2 linked regions of the Homo sapiens genome follow. The protein of the gene in region 2 interacts with the protein of the main gene of each other region in a biochemical or structural test. Each region holds a gene or a part of one and is shown on either strand. Other genes may lie near its edges.

What was found. Proteins that work in one complex are often made in the same cells at the same time.
Region 1: the proteins of KCNJ12 (region 2) and RADIL interact in a test that uses a peptide from one of them, tested with the Homo sapiens proteins (one large-scale study listed by IntAct).

The regions. Positions count from the first base shown.
Region 1 is NC_000007.14:4,831,717-4,835,216, forward strand, and holds part of RADIL (ras-associating and dilute domain-containing protein), read right to left. Parts: coding exon 2,891-3,500; intron 463-2,890; coding exon 425-462; intron 1-424. UniProt on the Homo sapiens protein: Downstream effector of Rap required for cell adhesion and migration of neural crest precursors during development.
Region 2 is NC_000017.11:21,414,099-21,417,697, reverse strand, and holds part of KCNJ12 (ATP-sensitive inward rectifier potassium channel 12), read right to left. Parts: intron 2,412-3,599; 5' UTR 2,356-2,411; coding exon 1,054-2,355; 3' UTR 1-1,053. UniProt on the Homo sapiens protein: Inward rectifying potassium channel that probably participates in controlling the resting membrane potential in electrically excitable cells. Probably participates in establishing action potential waveform and excitability of neuronal and muscle tissues.

The DNA of each region.
Region 1 (3,500 bases), on a different chromosome or scaffold from region 2:
TAAAAGTACAAAAAAAAAAAAATTAGCCAGGCATGGTGGTGCACACCTGCAGTCCCAGCTACTCGGGAAGCTGAGGCAAGAGAATCCCTTGAACCTGGGAGGTGTAGGTTGCTGTGAGCAGAGATTGCACCACTGCACTCCAGCCTGGCGATAGAGCAAACAAAACAAAACAAAACAAAAACAAACAAAAAAAGAAGACCTCACCCATCCAGTCTTAAGGGTGCCCTGAAGCAATTTCCCAAAACTCAGAGCTTCCCAGGGTGATGACTAAAGAAGCAAAAAAGGCCGCTGCTTGGATGGAAGGACAAAGCCCAGAGCTGACCCCAAGGCGTGGGGAGACCCCTCGGGACTTGGCTCCCCCGGGAAGTGTGAGCCCCCAGGACCTGCTGCCCAGAGGCGGGCACAATAACCGGGTCATACTCACAGTTGCGCCTGCTTCTCTGCTAGTTCTTTGGTTTTCTCCTACAATTACAAAGCGGGAGAAAAAGCAAGTGAGCAAAACAGGCTAACACAGGGACGCGTTCAAATACACGATACCATCGACAGGAAAACAAGCCATGCTGCCCCAGGCATCCTGTGTGACGCTGACTATTTATTCAAGCTGTGCTGGAAAGGACATTTTCCATGTGACTTCAACATCTTCCCATTCCATTACCGACTATGACCTACAAGTTTGCTACAATAGAGTATCTCACAACTCTCTAGCTTACATAACAACCGGCTATTTAAAAAATAGTAGAGGCTGGGCAAGGTGGCTCACACCTGGAATCCCAGCACTTTGGGAGGCTGAGGCAGGCAGATCACTTAAGGTCAGGAATTCGAGACCAGCCTGGACAACATGGTGAAACCCCATCTCTACTAAAAATACAAAAATTAGCCGGGTGTGGTGGCGCATGCCTATAATCCCAGCTATTTGGGAGGCTGAGGCAGGAGAATCCCTTGAACCTGGGAGGCAGAGGTTGCAGTGAGACGAGATCACGCCACCGCACTACAGCCTGGGTGACAGAGCGAGACTCCGTCTCAGCAAAAAAAAAAAAAAAAAAAAAAGAATTATTCTTGCCTTAGTAGTAAGTTATTATCCGGCTGAATGTAACCGTGATGGCTGAGTGCGCGTAGACTAAGCGTGTATATTTGGTAAGGAATGAGGACGGGGCAGCGGCGACACAGTTGCACATTCTCAGGAAACAAACGCGCAAATGATATTCGCATGGGATCTGGACAGCACCCAGCGGAGGCTTCGGATTCCCACAGTGGGTGCAGGGGGAAGAGGTGGACTCAGGCTCGGTCTCATGTCTATCAGCTCAATCTCTGGACCAGGCAATTCACCTCTGGGAGCCTCTGTTTCAGAGCCTGTAGCATAGGGGCAGGGTGAGCCCTGGTGTGCTGCAGGGAGTGGGCCAGCCACACAGCGAGCCCCAGGTGGCTGGGACACAGGCTGGGACCCGGGTCCCTCAGCAAGTGACTTACGGCCCCCTGGCTTCAGTTTCCCTGGCTGTGACATGGGGTGTGGCATCTACATCGTCAGGGTGGTTGTGATAAAGAAATTAAACAGCGTTTGGTTTGCAAGTAAGTGCCTGGCGCAGAGGAGACTCGGGAAATGACAATGATCGTGCGAAAACCCATGACTTCTGGCCAGCAGGTAACTCTCGGTCACAGTGGCCACGATGTGGACACACACTACAGGGACATCACCTGGCCCTGTGTCCATGACTGCACGGAGGGGACACGGGCACGCTGCAGTGGCACTCCCATCAAATCCCAAGCCGGGAACCCGAGGGGAAGAGGCACGGACACCCAGATTACAACACCCACGGTGCACAGAGACGGCTCCCACTGACATCTGGACAGGGAAGCCTGAGCTGGCTTTTACTTTTTAAAAGTCTCAGACATTTAAAATGTGGATTTCGATATGAGAAAGTGATAAGGTTTCTACACAGTCAAGTGGTTCCCCCTTCCCCTGTCTGCCGGGGATAAGCGGGGCCCAGACTAGCGAGGATCTGAGGGTCTCTGAACGAACTTGAACAACTACGAGTTGTCCTTCGGGTCCCTGGGAGCCAAGTCACTGTGGGGTGGGGCCCAGCGGGGGGCCATGACTGTGTGATGCCTGTTCCAGCACTCATGGGCCCAGGGCGGTCCTGCTCACTGGCGGCCACACTGGATTCCTGGGGACATTGGCAATGCCTGCAGCCATGGGTGTATTGCGTGTGTGTGTGTGGCGGGGCGGCAGAGGGTGACCGGCATCTAGGGGTGGAGGCCGGGGATGCTGCTGAATCCTCTGCAATGCACAGGCCAGCCTCACAGCAAGGAGCTCTCCTGCCACAGTGTCCACAGGGCCGGGGATGAGAGAGGCTGGCCTGGAGGAAAGTTCGTCAACGCACAAAAGGTGACGGGCCCTGCACCTCCAAACTCGGATCAGGGATGGCTCCAGCGGGTATGTGCTCAACCGGCCCCTGGCAGCAAGCACAGGGCGCCGGCACACACAGGGGCTTCTGGGGCTCTTGGGCAGGGGCCTGTGAGAGCTATCAATGTCACCTCGGCCTCGTGGTGCCCAGGCTCAGGGGCAGCTCACTCCTGGCACGTGACAGTGCTGGGCCCAGCTGGACCCCAGGGAGGGTACAAGCCCAGAGCTCAGGAGGTGACCTAGGACCCCACGCAAACCCCACCCTCAGGGGCAAAGGGCTGCAGCTGACACCTTGGGTTCTGGGGCTGCTTCTGGTGGCCTGTGGGGCTGGGGGGCAGCGACAGGCAGGGAAAGGCCGCCCTGCGCTCAGCAGCACAGCACCGTGGGGGTCAGATAGAGGCGCTCCCGCCTCCCAGCCGGGGCCAGCTCCGGGCCCCCTCTTCCCCCAGACCGGCACAGGACCCAGACCGCCCACCCCAGCACACTGACCCAGACAGTCTCGCGGATCAGCCTGGCTATCTTGAGCAGGAGCTGCCCGAATGTGCCCGGCTGGAAGTGGGTGGCCGAGTGCTGGATGCAGAGGCACAGGAGGAAGGCGGGGGTCAGCTTGTGGTCGTCGCCCCCCGGCTCGATCAACGTCATGATCCTCTGCAGCAGCGTGTCCTCCAGGTGGGGCTCAAACTCCAGGAGCAGCTGCTGGCGCCGGGGCAGGGCGGCCTGAGTAGGGGAGGCGGCTCCCCGGGCCCCGAGCGCGGCCCCGCACAGCCGGCAGCTCTGCGGCACAGCCCGGAGGCGCGCCAAGGCCCGGGCGGGCAGGGGCTGGGCCTGCGCGGGGTCCTTGAATAGCAGCAGGTAGTAGAGCCCCAGGGAGAGCAGGTCCCCGTGGTGCAGCACCACGGTCCTGTGCCCCACCTCGGAGAAGTTGACGGAGATGTGCGCCCCGGGGATGGGCTCCAGGACCAGCCTCCCCGCGGCCTGGCCGCTGTCCGGGAGCGGTTGCCGGCGGATGGTGCAGTGTAGAGGCAGGATGTCGGGGGCTGAGAGGCTGATGCTGGGCTTGCTGGAGGGGGTCCGCTGGCCCACCGTGTGCCGGTCCCGG
Region 2 (3,599 bases):
GAAAGAACAGGACAACCCGGAGTCTCTAAGGCACGACTCACACTGTGGGCCCAGTGGGGACGGGGCTGCCAGCTTCCTCCTAGCCTGGGATCCCGACTTCCCTTCCCAAGGAGCCATCCCGGCCTATAGCTCCTAACCACCCCTCACTGTGGAATTGGGCGGAGGCCTGGACAGAAATGGAGAGAGAAGCAAAACAGGAAAATCGAGGGTGCGGGGAGGAACCCTCGATGGCAGGTCCCATGCCTGGCCCTGAGACACATCTCTAAGGTACAAAGGCAAACTCTAAAAGCTCAAACCAGTTTCTTCCCAGCCCCACCCACCACCCCAACGACAGTAGAAAGCTTTTATTACGATCATTAACATGGTCTTGATTTTTCTATCACAAACAGAGCCTAGCTGGCTCGTGAGCTCGATGAAGTGCGGTCCCAGAGCACCCTGCTTGCCCAGGGACTGTGGTGCCCACACACACGGGGAGAGGCCAGTCCCACCTCGGGGAACCCTCTGGAGCCTTCAGCCAGCTGCTGCATCCTGGCAGACCCATGGAATTCTAATTGTTCTTTTTGCCCCCTGTGAATTAAAAAAAAATTTTTTCAATTGCATGGTAATTTTTTTTTTTTGTAAACAGTCTCACCCAAGCTAAGGTCAAGAAAGCTGAAACCCGGTGTTTCTCCCCAAGTTAAAAACCAGCAAGGAGCACCGCAGCTAGCCAGCCTTGGACAGCAGAGGCTGGGCCCACCATCGAGCTGAGCTGCTTCCCCGCAGGCTGCAGCTCCATCTTCAGGCAGAAGCCCTGGCCCTCGTGGCCTGGCCCCCCAGGAGGCCACTTCTTTGCCCTGAGCCTGTGATAGCCTCTGAGGCCGGGGGCTGCCGCTCTGGCTGCCCCCTCTCCGGCCAAACTTCTGAGGCCGTTGCAAAGAAACATAAAACGACTAAAACGCTACTGAGTCTGCAACCCAGGGCACTGGGCCCGTTCTGCTCAAACCCGGGGCCCCTGAGCGACCGCGGGGCCTCTCCCCAGCCGGGGGTGGATGCTGCATGTCGGCCAAGGTTGGCTCAGATCTCTGACTCCCGTCTGTAGGGCCGCTGCTCCAGGACCCCGCCGCCAGCCTGGAGTCTGTCAAAGTCATGCCTGGCCTGGGGGCTGAGGCCGTCCCGGCTTCGGCCGTCCTGGTCTCCGTCCGCCTCATCCTCCTCGTCACGGCTCAGGAAGGCCAGCTCGTTCTCGTAGCAGAAGGAGTTGGCGCTGGGCAGCAGGAACTTGTTCTCTACCAGATCCTTCGCACTGCAGCGGGGCGTAGAGGGCACCTCATAGGTCTTGTGGAAGTGCGAGTAGTCAATCTTGTACTGGTTCTTCTCCTCGAAGAGCACGGGCTCAAAGCGGTGACCCCACAGGATCTCATTGGCCAGGTAGGAGCTGCGGGCCTGGGTGGTCATGGCTGTGGCCTCCACCATGCCTTCCAGGATGACCACGATCTCAAAGTCGTCCGTCTCCAGGTCCTGCCGGCTGATGCCGAAGAGCGGGCTGGCCTCGTCAATCTCATGCAAGATGGTGATGGGCGACACCAGAAAGATGCGGTCCAGGCCCTTGTCGAAGCCCACATCGATGTCGATCTGGTCCAGCGGGATGTACTCGCCCTCCTCGGTGACCCGCGGCTTGATGAGCTGCGCGCGCACATGGGCCTCCACAATGTGGCTCTTGCGCAGGTTACCCACACGCCACATGAGGCAGAGCTTGCCGTCACGCAGGGCCACCACGGCGTTGTGGCTGAACAGCAGCGTCTGTGCCCGCTTCTTGGGCCTTGCCATCTTGGCCATGATGGCACCAATCATGAAGGAGTCGATGATGCAGCCCACGATGGACTGGGCCACCACCATGAAGACGGCCACCGGGCACTCCTCCGTCACACAGCGCAGCCCGTAGCCGATGGTGGTCTGCGTCTCGATGGAGAAGAGGAAGGCCGCCATGAAGCCGTGCACCTGCATCACACAGGGTGTGCGGCCCCGGCCCTCAGCCGGCTCCAGGTCACCGTGTGCCACCGCGATGACCCAGAAGATGATGCCGAACAGCAGCCAGGAGGCAAGGAAGGCCAGCGAGAAGATGAGCAGCATGTACCGCCAGCGGATGTCCACACAGGTGGTGAACATGTCAGCCAGGTAGCGCTGTGACTTCTCGTCCATGTTGGCGAACTCAATGTTGCACTGGCCATTCTTCTTGACGAAGCGGTTGCGGCACCTGCGCCGCGTGTGCACCTTGCCGTTGCCGAAGCCGTTGGCGCCCGACATGGTGACCAGGTGCAGCCCGTCCTCCTCCGATGACACGATGCTGTAGGGGTTGGCCCGGCTGGCCGCGGTCATCCCGGGGGTTGGGGGACCCTGGCTCGCCCCCAGGCTAGCTCCAGGCAGGGCGGCTCCTGCAACAGAGACGACAGCATGTCTGGCTGGGCTGGTGGCTCCGGGCTCCTCTACCCCCATCCCAGGGCCCCCAGACGTGACTGGAGGACGCTTCCACCCTGATTGACCCACGATCGTGCTCTGGTCTTGCCCAAGCCAGCTCCCCACTCCGCCTTCCCAGTGCGAATGGCCACCCCCTTCGGGCCCCCAGCAGCTCCAGCCAAAAACCTCAGCTCCACACCTCACTCCCACACTGAGGGCTCTGAAGAGTCTATTTAGGATCCGACCCCTTCTCCCACCCTCAAGGCCTGAATCTAACAGTGCCTGCCCAGCCAGTTCGGGGCACAACTTGCCAGCCTCTCTGCCTCTGCCCATGGCCCCCCAGTCTCCATGGCAGCCACAGAGGGCCTGTGGAAGCTGAGTCGGTGCCTATCCCTCCCCTGCTCAATGCCAGAGGCCCCCCAGGACATGCAGGACCTGCACAGGGAAGCTCCTGACCCCTCGGACCTCACCTCCCAGCCTCCTCCAGCGGACTCCCCTTCCGGCCACAGCCCCTGGCCCCAGGCTGTCCCTCAAACCCACCCTGGACACCCTCCCGCAAGACATCCTGCCACTGCCTCGCCACCTTGGCACCAGAGGCCTCCTTGTGCCCCAGGAAGACCCATGTCCCATCCCTGCTATATCCACAGCACTGCCCCTTCTAAGGGCACAATGGCGGCAGCAATAACAATAACGTAGCCAGGGGCACTCAACCATCAACCCCACCCTGAGACCACCACTCCCTAAGGGTAGCACATTTTCTTTTTTTCTTTTCTTTCTTTTTTTCTTTTTTAGACAGAATCTTCCTCTCGTCACCTAGGCTGGAATGCAATGGTGCGATTTCAGCTCACTGCCATCTCCGCCTCCTGGGTTCAAGCGATTCTCCTGCCTCAGCTTCCTGAGCAGCTGGGATTATAGGTGCCCGCCACCACATCCAGCTAACTTTTGTATTTTAAGTAGAGACGGGGTTTCACCATGTTGGCCAGGCTGGTCTCAAACTCTTGACCTCAGGTGATCCACCTGCCTCGGCCTCCTGAAGTGCTGGGATTACAGGCGTGAGACGTTTTCTCTTTTGCTTCTTGTTGTCCTTCCCAGGGCCTAGAATGCGGCCTGCCACCCCTGTCGCCACCCACTTTGAACACCCCAAGCTGGGTCCCACCACCCTCCTG